2 separate regions of the Homo sapiens genome follow, and region 1 is linked to region 2. The links come from fine-mapping of genetic effects on gene expression. A gene starts in region 2. The other region holds a variant in brackets. All regions are shown on one strand. Distances are from middle to middle. Region 1 holds the start of HSH2D (hematopoietic SH2 domain containing). Region 2 holds the start of RAB8A (RAB8A, member RAS oncogene family).

Region 1 (8,483 bases), 28 kb before region 2:
ACCTAGGAAAGTTTAGCTAGCACTGTGTATATATAGAGATATATATACAATATTCATGAATCCAGTTGTGACCTATCATGGGGTAATGTTTACAGGCTTATTCTTTTTTTTTACTTGGAAGAGCTCCTATTTATCCTTCAAAACCCAGTAAAAATGTCCCCTCCTCCAGGCAGCTTTCCTGCATCTCCCCCCAGACAACACCCTGGCACCCCTCTCTGTCCCCAACGTTCCCCCCTGTTCCTCTCTCTGGTCCAGCCATGACTCCATGGAGCTAGAGTGTCTTTATCTTGCTCTGTCTCCACCAGCCTGAGGGCCTCCTAGGGATCAGGGCTTAGGGCTAGGTTCCTGTGTTGTTGTTTTTTTCTGTGTCCTGGTGCTGGCCTGGCACAGAGGAGGGTGCAAGGGTCTTTGCTGGTGAACAGCTATCTAGTGATGAAAGACCGCATGCTCAAATTCAAGCTCCTGACCCTGGCCTGGGAGCCTCCTCTACTTCCCCGCTACCCACATTCTAGACCTAAAGACATCCTTGCTCTCTCTCTCTTGCCTCTCCATACCTTTGCTCATGCTGTTGTCTTGCCAAGACCCCCTTTTCCCTAACTCCAGCTCCATTTTCCATTTGTGGTCACCACAAATACCCCCTCCTCCACGAAGCTCTCCCCCATGCCCCTAGAAAATCCCTCCTGCCACCCCAGGCCCCACTAGCCCTGTCCCTCCTTCTGGCCTAGCCCAGCCCCCACGTTCTGTCTCCTCGAGGGCTGAGGCTCTTGGGTCACATACCTGGGAGACCCTTGGATGGCCGAGGCCCTCGCTGTAGCTGTGCCAGTGCCTGCAGGAGCCTGGGTTTCGATTCAAGGTCTGCACGTCAATGGGGCGGGGCTGGCTGCCCCGAGGCAGTTCCTGTTTCCTCAAGCAGGTGAGCCCTGGGGGCGGAACAAGGACAGCTCAAGTCACCCTGTCTGCAGTCCAACAAAGCATCTGGTGCCACAGGTGCAGAGACAGCTTGCTCCTGTCTTGCCCCCAGCAAGTTGTTATTGAGCACCTACTGTGTGCCTGCTGTTTGGAGGACACAGGGGTGACACGGAGACAGGTGCAGGCCCCCTGACTCCTGGCATCTATAATCTATCAAGCAGTGAAGAGGAGTGAGACATCATTACAAAGGGAGAACGGGGAACGGGTGCGGTGGCTCACACCTGCAATCCCAGCACTTTGACAGGCTGAGGCAGGCGGATCACTTGAGGTCAGGAGTTTGAGACCAGCCTGGCAAACATGGCAAAACCCCGTCTCTATTAAAATACGAAAATCAGCCGGGTGTGGCGGCGCACGCCTGTAATCCCAGCTACTCAGGAGGCTGAGGCACAAGAATTGCTTGAACCCGGGAGGCGGAGGTTGCAGTGAGCAGAGATCGCACCATTGCACTCCAGCCTGGGCAACGGAGTGAGACTCCTTCTCAAAACAAAAACAAAAGCAACAAAGGGGGAACAGAAACTGGGCGCGGTGGCTCACGCCTGTAATCCCAGCACTTTGGGAGGCCGAGGCGGGTGGATCATTTGAGGCCAGGAGTTTGAGACCAGGCTGGCCAACATGGTAAAACCCTGTCTCTACTAAAAATACAAAAATTAGGCGTGGTGGCGGGTGCCTGTAATCCCAGCTACTCAGGAGGCTGATGCAAGAGAATCGCTTGGACCAGGGACGCAGAGGCTGCAGTGAGCCGAGATCACGCCACTGCACTTTAGCCTGGATGACAGAGGGAAATTCTGTCCCCCGCAAAACAAACAAACAAAAAAACACCAGCTGGGTGCGGTGGCTCATGCCTGTAATCCCAGCACTTTGGGAGGCCAAGGTGGGCAGATCATTTGAGGTCAGGAGTTCGCGACCAGCCTGACCAACATGGAGAAATCCCGTCTCTACTAAAACTGCAAAATTAGCCCGGCGTGGTGACACATGCCTGTAATCCCAGCTATTTGGGAGGCTGAGGCAGGAGAATCGCTTGAACCCGGGAGGTGGAGGTTGCGGTTTGCTGAGATCTCACCACTGCACTCCAGCCTGGGCAGCGAGAGTGTAACTCCGTCTCAAACAAAACAAAACCAACGAAAACCAAACAAAACAAAACAAAAAAACAAAAAACCCCAAACAAACAAAAAAATCCAAAGGGGAAACAGGAAGTGGGAACAGCAGTTGCACAAACCCACAGAGGTGACCTAACTGACGTGAAGGAAGGGGCATTTGAGGGTGAGAAGGAATCATCTTGATTTGGGGAGTGCGTAGTGCAGAAAGAGTATATTTTTTTGTAGAGATGGGGTCTTGCTATATTGCCCAGGCTGGGGGAGGGAAGAGCAGGCACAAAGGCCTTGAAACTGAATTGAGCCTGGACAGGCTGGGGTCTCATGGCACGCATAGGTCCACACCAGGACTTCCTCCATTATAAAATATTTTAAAATATTTTTATTAATTGACTAACCTATTTTAGAGACAGAGTTTCACTCTGTCACTCAGGCTGGAGTGCAGTGGTATGATCATAGCTCACTGCAGTCTTGAACTGCTGGACTCAAGTGATCCTCCTGCCTCAGGCTCCCAAGTAGCTGGGACTACAGGCACACACCACCACACCTGACTAATTAAAAAAATATTTTTTTTGGAGATGGGATCTTGCTGTGTTGCCCAGGCTGGTCTCAAACTCCTGGGGCTCAAGCGATCCGCCCACCTTGGTTCAAGTGACTCTCCTGCCTCAGCCTCCTGAGTAGCTGGGATTAGAGGTGCCCACCAACACGCCTGGCTAATGTTTGTATTTTTAGTAGAGACAAGGTTTCACTATGTTGGCCAGGCTGGTCTCAAACTCCTGACCTCAGGTGATCCACCCGCCTCAGCCTCCCAAAGTGCTGGGATTACAGGTGTGGGCCGCCGTGCCAGCTTAAAATTCTATTTTACAACTGTGTTGGCATTAAGACCGATGTGGTCCAGGCTGGATTCCTTATTGTATATTTATTATTAGGATGTTCAGTTTTTTTTCTTCTGATTTTAAATAAGCTGAAGCCCTTTGGGAAGTCCCACACAGCACTTGGGTCCTGGGTGCAGGCCCTGTGTGCCTAACAGATTGGCCAGCTCTGGCCGTGTGCTCGTACCCCAGGCAGACAAACAAAACTACTTCCTCCTCTCCTTTCAGGCAGAAAGGGCCCAGATCCTACTGGGGGCCTCCCCAAGGGCCTATTGCCCTGGCCCAGCTGGGCTAGATAACCCCAGGCTCACCCTGGGTGCCTCTCTCACCCCCCTGCTCCTCCTCGGCAACAGCAGC[A/G]CCTCGTCTGCCCTCTGTGGTCAACAAGGTCTAAGCAGGAGACACGTGGAGCCCTGCTTCTCACTCACCTGCTGTGTGTCCTAAGGTGAGTTGCTCAGCCTCTCTGAGCCTCAGTTCTGCATCTGTGCAATGGGCATAATAGCCCTCCTTAATCATGTGAAGATGCTAGGAGAGGCAACTCTCCAGCACAGCACATGGAGATGAGTTGGGAGTGAGAGAATCAGGACTCTTTGTTGTGACTTAATTCAAGCAAGGCCTTTGTGTTTGCCTGGGGGAGACTCTGGCTTGGGCCTCAGACCTCATGGGCTGAGCTGCCTTGGGCAACTCACTTCACCTCTCTGTGGCTAATCTCTTTTTCTTCTTCTTTTTTTTTTGAGTAGGGTCCCCTCACTCTGTTGCCCAGGCTGGAGTGCAGTGGTGCAGTCTCAGCTCACCACAGCCTCTACTTCCTGGGCTCAAGTGATCCTCCCATCTCAGCCTCCTGAGTAGCTGGGACTACAGGAGCACCACCACCACGCCTGGCTAATTTTTGGATTTTTGAAGAGATGGGGTTTTGTCATGTTGCCAGGTTGGTCTCGTTCAAGTGATCCTCCCGCCTCAGCCTCCCAAAGTGTTAGGATTACAGGTGTCAGCTGCTGCATCTGGCCTTTTTATTTTTGAGATGATGTCTTGTTCTATCGCCCCGGCTGGAGTACAGTGGTGCGATCTTGGCTCACTGCAACCTCCACCTCCCGGGTTCAAGCGATTCTCCTGCCTCAGTCTCCCCAGTAGCTGAGATTATAAGTGTGCACCACCACTCCTGGCTAATTTTTATATTTTTAGTAGAGACAGGGTTTCACCATGTTGGCCAGGTTGGTCTTGAACTCCTGACCTCAAGTGGTCTGCCCACCTTGGCCTCCCAAAGTGCTGGGATTATAGGCCTGAAGTATTTATTTATTTATTTTTATTTTTTATTTTTTTGAGACAGGATCTTGTTCTGTTGCCCAGGCTGGAGTGCAGTGGTGCAAGTACAACTCACTGCAGCCTCAAACTCCTGGCCTCAAGCGATCTACCTGCCTGGACTTCCCAAAGTGCTGGCATTACAGGCATGAGCCACCGGGCCTGGCCTTCACTTCACTTCACTTCTCTGATCCTCCTGGGAAAGTCTGACCATCGGGGCTCTTATTTGCATGGGGTTTAGAGTTTCCAGGAACATGGGGGTACGCTGGCCCAGCTCTAGCACAGTCCCCTAAGACCTCACCACAAACGGCCCAACCTCGCTTCCCCTGACCTGCTTGGGTGATGTGGTCTCCCACAAACTAACGTCTTCCTTTCAGATGTCGCAACAGAATCACCCCCACACCCCTCAGTGTCCGCAGGCCTCGGCCCGCAAACGGACATGCGTCCCCCAGAGGAAGGAAGGGTGTGGAGGGGAAAACGAAGGTGCCCTGATGGGGAGATAACGGGGCTAGAATTCCAAGGCCCCCTCTCTCTGATACCAGGTTCTCCAGGGAGACAGATCTGGGCTTCTCAGCAGAGGCCGCAGCTGGTAAGTGGGCCATTCACAGATTCACGTGGGGTGGCTCTTGGGGGAGGTGGCCACAATGCCATCTTAGTGCTGGGAAAATGCTGGGCCCATACATGTCAGGGAGTGGGGAAGCCCTTAGGCTCTGCCAACACTGGGTTTGATGCGATTCTTTTTAGAGACAAGGTCTCACTCTGTTGCCCAGGCTGAAGTGCACTGTGCCATCATAGCTCCCTGCAACCTCAAACTCCCGGGCTCAAGTGATCCTCCCGCCTCAGCCTCCCAAGTAGCTGCAATCACAAGCTCACACCACCATGCCCGGTTAATTTTTCAATTTTTATTTTGTAGACAGGGTCTTGCTGTGTTGCCCAGGATGGTCTAGAACGCCTGAGCTCAAGCAATCCTCACACCCCAGCCTCCCAGTGTTGGGATTATAGGCATGAGCCACTGTGCCCAACCCTGGACTTGATGTAATTTTATGATTTTAGCTTCCTACAATGCCTTCATTCTATTCATTCATTGATTTCACAAACACTGGCTGAGCCCCAGCTCTGGATGGGCACCATGCTAGATGCTGCAGATGAAGCAGAAGGCAAGATCGGGCCGGGTGCTGTGGCTTATGCCTGTAATCCCAGCTCTTCGGGAGGCCGAGGTGGGCAGATCACCTGAGGTCAGGAGTTCAAGACCAGCCTGGCCAACATGGGGAAACCCTGTCTATACTAAAAACACAAAAATTAGTTGGGCGTAGTGGCTCATGCCTGTAATCCCAGATACTCAGGAGGCTGAGGCAGAAGAATTGCTTGAACTGGGAGATGGAGGTTGCAGTGAGCTGAGATCATGCCACTGCACTCCAGCCTGGGTCACAGAGTGAGACTGTGTCTCAAAAAAAAAAGGCAAGATTGGCATGGTCCCCACCCTTCTAGGGCCCACAGTCTATGAGGAGACAGATGCTGAATGAGTTCACATGCAGGACAGTCAGGCAGAAAAGAAAATAGCAAGGGCAGGCTGGGTGCGGTGGCTCAAACCTGTAATCCCAGCACTTTGGGAGACTGAGGCAGGCAGATCATGAAGTCAAGGGATCGAGACCAGCCTGGCCAACATGGTGAAACCCTGTCTCTACCAAAAATACAAAAATTAGCTGGGCATGGTGGCGCACGCCTGTAGTCCCAGCTACTCGGGAGGCTGAGGCAGAAGAATCGCTTGAACCCGGGAGGCGGAGGGTGCAGTGAGCTGAGATCTTGCCACTGCACTCCAGCCTGGGCAACAGAGCGAGACTCCATCTCAAACAAACAAACAAAATCAGCACGGGCAAAGGCCCTGTGGTAGGAAAGAACTTGGTATGTCTGAGGCACAGATGATGACAGCTAAGGTGTCCAAACGGTGGAAACAACCCAAATGTCCATGAATGAATGAATGGGTAAACAAAACGTGGTTCCATCATCCACACCATGAAATATGATTCAGCCACAGAAAGGAAGGAAGCACTGCTCCATGCTACAATGTGGATGAGCCCCAAAAACATGATGCTGAGAGAAGCCAGACACAAAGGCCACCTAGTGCATGATTCCATTGATATGAAATGTCCAGAACTGGCTGGACACGGTGGCTCACACCTGTAATTCTAGCACTTTGGGAGGCCAAGGTGGGTGGATCACCTGAGGTCAAGAGTTTGAGACTAGCCTGGCCAACATGGTGAAACTCCATCTCTACTAAAAATACAAAAATTAGCCAGGCGTGGTGGCGGGACCTGTAATCCCAGCTACTCGGGAGGCTGAGGCATGAGAATTGCTTGAACCCAGGAGGCAGAAGTTGCAGTGAGCCAAGATTGCACCACTGCACTTTTCTTGGGGAACAAGATGAACAATGGTGGTCATAGTAATAACAGGGTGGGTGTGGTGGCTCACACCTGTAATCCCAACACTTTGGGAGGCTGAGGTGGGAGGATCACTTGAGGCCAGTTCAAGACCAGCCTGGGCAGTGAGACACCATCTCTACAAAAAAGTAAAACAATTAGTTGGGTGTGGTGGTATGCACCTGTAGTACCAGCTACTTGGGAGGCTAAGGCAGGAGGATCACTTGAGCCTGGGAGGTTGAGGCTGCAGTGAGCCATGATCCCACCACTGCACTCCAGCCTGGGCAACAGAGCAAGACCCTGCTTCTTTTTTTCTTTTTTTTTTTTTTTGAGACGGAGTCTCGCTCTGTTGCCCAGGCTGGAGTGCAGTGGCATGATCTAGGTTCATTGCAACCTCCGCCTCCCTGGTTCAAGTGATTTCTGGCTAATTTTTGTATTTTTAGTAGAGACGGGGTTTCACCATATTGGCCAGGCTGGTCTCGAACTCCTGACCTCAAGTGATCCACCCACGTCGGCCTCCCAAAGTGCTGGGATTATAGGTGTGAGCTACCGCGCCCGGCCGGATGACCCTGCTTTAAAATAATGATAATGATGATGATGACAGTGATGAGGACAGTGATGATGCTGATATCAGCCTATTCTGTCTCTGTGCTCATTATGTATGTACCTGTGCCTCCTCTGGGATCCATCATCTCCCTGGCTCTTCATAGCCATCCTATGAGGTGGAAACTATGATCCCCCCTATTTTGCAAGAGAGGAAACTAAGTTCAGTTGTTGAGGGCATGTGTCCAAGGCTGTGCCATTGAAACGGCCTCATCTGGGGTAGATACCCGAGATTTGTCATCTCATGGCCATGGAGAACAAGGACGTGGACACACAAGAGTGAGGTTAAGAGAAGCTTAATAGGCAAAAGAAAGAGAAGAGTTCCCTCCTGCAGAGAGAGGTCCTGAAAAAATGCATTGACAGATGCACAGTGAAATGCAGGGGATTTTATAGATGCCTGGTGAGGAGGCAGTGTTTGATTTACATAAGGCGTGAAAGATTGGTTGGACTAGGTGTTATATTTGCATAGGGTGTGAAAAACTGGTTAGGACTAGGTGTGCCATTTGCATCGGGTGTGAATTTCTGGCCACCCCTAATCTTTTATCATGCAAGCGGGTCCTCTGCCTGAGCTGTGCCATGTTGCCCATCCCTTTACTGTACACGTGGTAATAAAAACAGGGAAGATGGAGTCTCCACGTTGGTCTTGCCTGGCACCCAGGCAACTGTTTTCTATTGACGCAGCTGCTGGCATTTCCCCGTGCAAGCTTCTAGCTCGCTTATCTATGTCTGCAGCTCGATTTCTCAGACTGCTTTTTGTTAGAAAAAATAATTTCTTGGGCTGCTTTTTGTTAGAAAAGAAATTCCGCCAAGGACTCTGGTGCCCTCACTATCTGCCTAAATAATTTCTTTCTAGCTCCTCTATCACCGTGGGTCTTGAGTGGTGCTGGGATTCGGGCCCAGGCAGCTCCCTCTTATCCGTGACCCATTAAGGGCTCAGAAGAAAGCCAGGCACAGGATGGGTTCCCAGTCAGGATCTGCTATTCATTGCCATTGGCTGTCACTGTCTCCGAATTTTGCAGTTTTGGACAGAAACTGCAAAGTTTCGTGGAAAGAAAGCAAGTTTCCCAAAGTGGCCATTTATCAGGCATCCGTGGCAGGGGGTGACTTTTGAGTTTTAGTATCAGGATTCAGGGTCCTCCTGAGTGCGTGCTCGGAGGCTCAAGGATAGAGATGACAGAGATTTTGATGGGAGCTAAGCCAGGGACCACCAGGGCAGGCCTCTAGCATGGTCAGGT
Region 2 (8,049 bases):
TCTGTGAATGTACCCAAAGCCACTGAATTGTACACTGCAAATGGGTGAACTGTATGCGAATTCTATCTCATAAAGCTATTTTTTTTTAAAGCCTCTTTCAGTGGCTTCCCTGCCCCACTTCCCTCGAATAAAGTGGAAACAGCTGCTCATGTGTGTCAAGGTCCTGCCTAACCTGGTCACCTCTCAGCACTCTGGCTCATGACCTGCTCTCTCTGGCCACACCATCCACACAGCGATTTCCTCAACATTCCAAGCATGCTCCTGACTCGGGGCTTTGATGTTTGCTCTTCCCTGCCCTGGAAAGTTCTTTCTTCTGTAGCTACCTGGCTATCCCTTTGTTCAGGTTCCCATTCAAGTTCCCTCCTCAGGGGAACCTTTCTGACCATCCTCATCAGTTCTCCCTTTACCTATTTATTAACATAACTGACATACATGTATGTATCTGCTGCATGGACCTGGGCATAATGCTTGCAGATCATAATGGCCCATGTAGATGAGAAACAGCCAGACCCAGCCTTTGCCACCAGGAGTTTGTTCAAGTGCCTGCTGGGGAAGACTTGAGGCCCAGGCCTGGCTGGGCCTCTCTGAACCCAGGGTGGGGATGCTAATTCCATCCATCCAGCCCCAGCACTGGACTTTCGCCCTCTCAAACGTAAGCTCCCTGGGGCAGGGAACTGACAAGTCTCATCCACTGCTATTACCTCCAGTGACTGAACACACAGGGGTTGAATACACATTTGCTAGAAGCTGGTACCCCAGTCCTGCACGCACCTTGACTCACCTGTGTCCTTTCTGCAGCCCTCTTGCCAAAATGGCTGCCTGGCCCACAGAAGACACTGGCAAAATATGGCTGGATCAAAGTATTAAAGCGCAACAGGGTCTACGCGGTGTTGAGCGGTTCACAAAGCACTTTCTCAAATGCCAACCCTTTCACTGGAGGAATCAATGGGCCCCTGAGGAGGCAGTGGCGCCGAGCCAGGCTGGTGAGAACCCATTCCAGGGAGCTACAGGGCCAAGTTCACACCACAAATGATCTATGGGGCTTCTGAGAATAGGCTTTGATGAAATGTAACTTTTGGCAAAATGTTAAGGATTGAGTGGCAGAAAATGAATAGCCACTCAATCCTTGTCTATAAAGAAAACCCAGAGGTACACTCAGCCAATATAGAATTGCTTCTTTTTTTTTTTGGAGACAGAGTTTTGCTCTGTTGCCCAGGCTGGAGTGCACTGGCACAATCTTGGCTCACTGCAACCTCTGCCTCCTGGATTCAAGCGATTCTCCTGCCTCAGCCTCCTGAGTAGCTGGGAATACAGGCAAGCGCCACCACGTATGGCTAATTTATGGAATCACCTTTAAGCATTAAGGTGATACTGCTTCAGGACTAGACAGCCCAGTGTGCCTGGGCTTCCTAAAACATTCCCCATTTCCTGTCACACGTGTACAGGGACACAAAAAATCGAGGAGCACTGTTAGGTTGGCCAAGCTCCACAGCAGCACTCCGCCCTACACTCCTCTGGGTTTTATTAACATGCCAAATTTAATTAGGAAGTGTAAACTTTATGAGGCCTAAGAATTATGAGGTCTGACCTTCAAGGTCATGGTGAATTAGACTTTCCTAGAAGACAGAAGGCTACAAATGGAAGGAGGGGAATGAAGGGGTGGGAGGGAGGGATCTTAGGGTCAGGTGCCACCTCCACCTTGCTAGGTAACTTTCACCAAGTCACATCCTCATCTGCAAATGGAAGAAAGCCTCTTTAAAGCTCAAAGTAACTCTAAAGAGGGGGGTTGGGCTGGGCGCGGTGGCTCATGCTTGTAATCCCAGCACTTTGGGAGGCCAAGGTGGGCGGTCACGAGGTCAGGAGTTCGAGACCAGCCTGGCCAACATGGTGAAACCCCATCTCTACTAAAAAAAAAAAAAAAAAAATACAAAAATTAGCTGGGCATGGTGGCAGGTGCTTGTAATCCCAGCTACTTGGGAGGCTGAGACAGGAGAATCGCTGGAACCTGGGAGGTGGAAGTTGCAGTGAGCCGAGATCGCGCCACTGCACTCCAGACTGGGTGACAAAGAGAGACTGTCTCAAAAAAAAAAAAAAAAAAAGAGGGGGGTTTGTGGGGAAGGCTGGGAAACTGGGATCTGAGTGAATGCAAGCCAGTCTGCTCACAGTTAACATCATTTCTTTCTTTCTTTTATTTTTATTATTATTTTTTAAGACAGGGTCTCGCTCTGTTGCCCAGGCTGGAGTGCAGTGACACCATCACAGCTCACTGCACCTTGACCTCCTGGGCTCAATCGATCCTCCCACCTTGGCCTCCCAAGTGGCTGGGTCTACATGGGTGAGCCACTGTGCCCGGCTGATTTTATTTTATTTTTTGTAGAGATGGGGTTTGCCATGTTGCCCAGGCTGAATTAACGCCACTTCTTGATTGGTTGGAGCACAAGAATTACCCTAAAGTTTAGCCTTGGAGTGGGGGAGGGGGAAGAATTCAGAAACATCTGTCTTCAGAGGCTGGATGCTGTCACTGCAGGAGCCATTCATTTGCTTCCTCTAGATAGCCTCTGGTTGTGGTGACAACCCCTTATTGTCTAATTCTAATCCTCAACCACCAGGGCACTAGGCTGGGCAGACAGTGTCACTCCTGCTCTAAAGACAGCAGGGCTCAGAGAGGGGTAGTGCACATTCAAGGGCAAACAGCAACTGGAAACCAGACGTAATGATTTCCAGTCAATTCTCTCTATTTTACATCTGGCATATAACTGTTTTATAAAGCACAGCTCCGCTGGGTGCGGTGGCTCATGCTTGTAATCCCAGCACTTTGGGATGCCAAGGCAGGCAGATCACAAGGTCAGGAGTTCGAGACCAGCCTGACCAACACAGTGAAACCCTGTATTTACTAAAAATACAAAAATTAGCTGGACGTGGTGGCGGGTGCCTATAATCCCAGCTACTAGGGAGGCTGAGGCAGGAGAATTGCTTGAACCCGGGAGGCAGAGGTTGTAGTGACCCGAGATCCTGCCGCTGGATTCCAGCCTGGGCAAAAGAGCTAGACTCCGTCTCAAAAAATAAAATAAAATAAAATAAATAAAGCATAGCTCCTGGAGGAGGGCAAGAATGGAATTAGCACATTATCTTGGGGTTCAGGGAGATAACACGATTCTGTCAAAGTGACACAGTAAAGCAAAGGCCATTCCCTAGGTTTTCTTGAGTCGGAATAAACTCCTGGACTTAGTGACCGTTCCCCCACTTTCCCCATCCCTAGCAGGGCTACAGAGCTCACAAGCCACTCAAATAGGTGTTACTCCTGGGTCAAACCTTTTCATTGTGGGCCAGGACTGCTTTTGTGGCACTGAGAGAGGTCAGCTCCACTTCTGTGGACATCACAACTGAGATGCACCAAGCCAATTCTGTTCAACCACAATGTGGGCTGGCCCTACAGGAAAAGCTGTTCTAAAGTGACAGCTGGAGTCTTGGGCCCTTTGATAGGGAAGTCAAGGCTGTCTGTGGCAGTGGCTGATTTAGTTTCTCGCTGAGGCTTTTATCTTGCATCTTCTTGGGGATGACAGGTCCCAGGGCAGGCAGTGCTGTCACTTGCCATTGCTGTCATTCCTGGAGCAGGATGAAAGGTGGGCAGGGAAAAGGTCCTGACTCTTCTTATCATTCCTTCTAGAGGAAAATACGCTTATGAGGGGAAGCATGGTCAGGGAGAGGGGCTCAACCTCTGAACGCTCCAGAGAAAAGAGCAGGAATGGTGTGGGTTAGAGTCCCGGCTCCAAGGTGCATTAGCTGAGCTTGTCATCAGCTGGGAGTGTGCAGTGGCATCTCTCTAGGAGAGCTAAGCCTCGAGTTTTGGGTTGAGACACAGCCAGGTTCAAATTCCATCAAATCCCATTCTCACCACGTGCAGACTGTGTGGCCTTGGGCAAGTTCCATGCCCTCCCTGAGCCTCAGATTCCTCATCTTGTCAGACGGGCTCATAACAGCACTTAACACCAAGAACTGAAGAGTGTGAAAATGCACGTGAAGCACTTGGCACATAGTAAATGCTCATTAAGGTGAGATGCCACTGTCTTTTTCCCATGGCCAATTCCCCATGACTCAGTTTCCACTTCTGTAAGGCAAGAGCCTCAAAAGAACCGCTTCGAGGGCTGCTGCTAGGACAGATCGAGAGGACGGGCGCGAAGACCCCAGCCCAAGACATAACACGCCCTAACGAGCGGGCTGAGGGTCGGAGCCTCAGTCTCCCTATCTGCAAAATGGGCACCTGGTCTCCCCCACCACGGCCCAGGAACCCCCGAACGGCGGTGCAGGCGACTGCTCTTCTCCCTTTAGGCCCCCTCGACCCTCTCAGCGCCCTCGGCCCGTCCAGCCCTGTAGATCCCTCAGCCCCAGCCCCTCAGGGGCGCGCCCAGCCCGGGCCTCCGGCGCCCCCAGCCATTCCCCGGTCCCGTTACCTATGGTGGAGATAAAAGTGGAGTTGAAGGCGTCCTCGGAGAAGCGGAACAGGACACAGGTCTTCCCCACCCCCGAGTCCCCGATCAGCAGCAGCTTGAACAGGTAATCGTAGGTCTTCGCCATATTACACTCTCTCCCCGACGGGAAGTGCGGCCAGCGCCTCTCCACTGGCCACCAGCACCGTCCATCAGCACCGAGCCCGCCCCTTATTGGCTCCAGGCCCGCTGCGCGTCACCGCGGCCGACGCCCGCCCCTGCGTCCCGCCAGTCGCGGGGAGACCTTGGGAGGGGGCGAGCGGAGCGCGGAGCCGGAAGCAGCCCGAGCGCACCTCCCATTGGCCGGCACTAGGGAGAGCACGGGCTCTGATTGACCAGCAGTGAAGAGTCGCGGGGCTTCAAATGGGGACGAGGCGGGGGCGTGGCATTATGTGGCCCCCGCCTTCCACCCCCGACTCGGGCGGCCCGGCCCCGCCCCACTGTAGGAGAGGGAAGGCAGGGAGCGGCGCCAACCGCTCGCGCGCCGGCAGCCTGGCGGGGCGTGGCTTGGGGTGCGTGCGCACGCGCGCCCGGAGTTCCGTTAGGCGACAGCAGAGGGCGCACGCCAGTAGTTGGGGCGGGTGTCTCTGGGTCCCGCCCTCACAGCTCGCGCAGGCGCAGTAGGCACCGAGGCGAGCGCGGGAAAGCAAGGTAGCGCTCTCAGCCTTGTCTGCGGCCTGCGAGTCGGGGCAGTGGGGGCCTAGGGAGGAAGGAGAGAGGAGGAGCTGTATACTCGAAAAGTGACCCAAGCCGGACGCGGTGGTTCACGCCTTTAATTCCCACACTTTGGGAAGCCGAGGCGCGTGGATCACGAGGTCAGGAGTTCAAGACCAGCCTGGCCAAGATGGTGAAACCCCGTTTCTACTAAAAATACAAAAATTAGCCGGGCGTGGTGGCGGGCGCCTGTAATCCCAGCCACTCGGGAGGCTGAGGCAGAGAATTGCTTGAATCTGGGAGGCGGAGCTTGCAGTGAGCCGAGATCGCGCCATTGCACTGCAGCGTGGGCGACAGAGAGAGACTCCGTCTCAAAAAAAATAAATAAAAGTGACCCAAGACGAGCTCCGAGGTCTGCGGCCTAGCGATCTGCTTAGAGATACCCAAGGCCTCCGCCATCTGAGCGGCTTCACCGCCACAAGCTGTGCCCGGAAGCGCGCGCCGGCCTCCTCAGGGCCCGCCCTCGGCCACCTTAGGGGTTGTCCGGGCCAGCCCGGGGATGGTGGGGGGGGAGGGGTTAGAGCAGTGAGGATGCTGGGTCCTATCTAGGGGCCAGGGCTCTCAACGTTGAAAAAACTGGCCGGGGCGTTGGCTCCCGTCTGTGATCCCAGTGCTTTGGGAAGCCAGGAGGTTGAGGGTGCAGTAAGCCGTGATCGCCCCACTGCAATTCGGCCTGGGCGACAGAGCAAGACCCTATCAAAAGAAAAAAAGGCTGGGCGCGGTGGCTCAGGCCTGTAATCCCGCACTTTGGGAGGCCGAGGCGGGCGGATCAGGAGGTCAGGAGATCGAGACCATCCTGGCTAACGCGGTGAAACCCCGTCTCTACTAAAAACACAAAAAATTACCCGGGAGTAGTGGCGGGCGCCTGTAGTCCCAGCTACTCGGGAGGCTGAGGCAGGAGAATGGTGTGAACCCGGGAGGCGGAGCCTGCAGTGAACCGAGATCGCGCCACTGCACTCCAGTCTGGGCGACAGAATGAGACTACGTCTCAAAAAAAAAAAAAAAAAAAAAAAGAAAGAGAAAAACAGAGGAGAGATACATTTGGAAAATCGGGCTTGCAGCTGGGTGTGGTGGCTCAGGCCTGTAATCCCAGCACTTTGGGAGTCAGCACTTTGGGAGGCAGGAGGATTGCTTGAGCTTAGGAGGTCAAGACCAGCCCGGACAAGATAGGGAGATCCCCATCTCTACAACAAATAAAATTAGCTGGGCGTCATGGTGCACGCTTGTAATCCCAGCACTTTGGGAGGCTGAGGTGGAGGTTCATTGGAGGCCAGGAGGTGGAGACCAGCCTGGGCAACATAGCAAGACCTCCATCTCTGCAAAAAAAAAAAAGTTTTTTGGCCAGGCGAGGTGGTTCACACCTGTAATCCCAGCACTTTGGGAGGCCAAGGCAGGTGGATCACCTGAGGTCAGGAGTTCCAGACCAGCCTGGCCAACATGGTAAAACACCATCTCTGCTAAAAATACAGAAACTAGGCAGGTGTGGTCATGTGCGCCTGTAGTCCCAGCTACTCAGGCGGCTGAGGCACCAGAATTGCTTGAATCTGGGAGGCGGAGGTTGCAGTGAGCCGAGATTGTGTCACTGCATTCCAGCCTGGGTGACAGAGCAAGGCTCCATCTCAAAAAACAAAAAATTTTTTTAAAAAATTAGCCAGGTATGGTGGTGTATGCTTGTAGTCCCAGCTACTCAGGAGGCTAAGGTGGGAGGATCCCTTGAGCCCAGGAGGTCAAGGCAGCAGTGAGCTGTGATCGCACCATTGCACTCCAGCCTGGGCGACGGAGCAAGACCCTGACTTTTTTTTTTTTCTGAGATGGAGTCTCTCACGGTCACCAGGGCTGGAGTGCAATGGCGCGATCTTGGCTCACTGCAACCTCTGCCTCCCGGGTTCAGGCGATTCTCCTGCCTCAGCCTCCCAAGTAGCTTGGATTCCAGGCACCCACCACCACGCCTGGTGTGGTGTATTTTTTTGTATTTTTAGTAGAGATGGGGTTTCACTGTGTTGGCCAGGCTGGTCTCGAACTCCTGACCTCGTGATCCGCCTGCCTCCACCTCCCAAAGTACTGGGATTACAGGCGTGAGCCCCTGCACCCGGCCCCTGACTCTTAAAATTTTAATCCCAGTACCAGCCCAGCAAAACGATGTTATTGTTTTTTTCCTGTTTAATGGTGAGAAAACTGAAGCCAGAGGAGGTTAAGTGACTTTTCCCCCTTCCTGCTTAAAAGTGGGAATTTGGTATCTGAACTCAGAGTGCCAAGCTTCCCAGGCCGCAGTTTGATCACTAGGGCTCCCTGCTTCTTAGAGATGGTCCAGTCTGTTCTAGGTCACTCTGGGGCCTCCGGGGCCTTGAGGCTTACTTAAGGATCTGTGGAAGGAGGGCCCAGCCTTTCCTCCTCCCTTCCACTTCAGCTCATTCTTCTGCTAATCTAGCTCTGGTTAAAAAAGCTTCAACCAGAGGCATTGACCACCTACAGGCCTCAGCCTCTGTGGTATTTGATAGTCTTGATCACCTCTGAATATTCTTTTTTCTTGGTATTATCCTCATTTATTTACTTATTTTTGAGACAGGGTCTTGTTCTGTGGCCCAGGCTGGAGAGCAATGGTGTGATTTCACTCACTGCAACCTCCGCCTCCCAGGCTCCAGTGATTCTCCCACCTCAGCCTCCAGAGTAGCTGGAACTACTGGCATGCACCACCACGCATGGCTAATTTTTATTTTTTGTAGAGATGGGGTCTTGCTATGTTACCCAGGCTGGTCTGGAATTCCTGGGCTCAAGCCATCCTCCCACCTCAGCCTCCCAAGTAGCTGGGACTACATCTGCACGCTACTATGGCAGGCTAATTTTTTTA

The links.
Region 1: its variant is fine-mapped to the expression of RAB8A in whole blood (INTERVAL, PIP above 0.99).

What each region holds. Positions count from the first base shown.
Region 1 is chr19:16,136,069-16,144,551 of GRCh38, reverse strand. HSH2D (hematopoietic SH2 domain containing) reads right to left here and starts at 867. Exons shown (of 6, transcript NM_001382417.1): 1 at 778-867. HSH2D-AS1 (HSH2D and RAB8A antisense RNA 1) reads left to right here and starts at 4,637. Exons shown (of 2, transcript NR_199156.1): 1 at 4,637-4,817. RefSeq lists enhancers at 465-514, 525-604, 745-1,004, 1,085-1,244, 732-1,426 and 2 more. The variant A/G (reference allele first, on the strand shown) is at 3,290.
Region 2 is chr19:16,108,428-16,116,476 of GRCh38, reverse strand. RAB8A (RAB8A, member RAS oncogene family) reads right to left here and starts at 4,588. Exons shown (of 8, transcript NM_005370.5): 1 at 4,452-4,588. The coding sequence starts at 4,575. RefSeq lists a silencer at 4,546-5,205.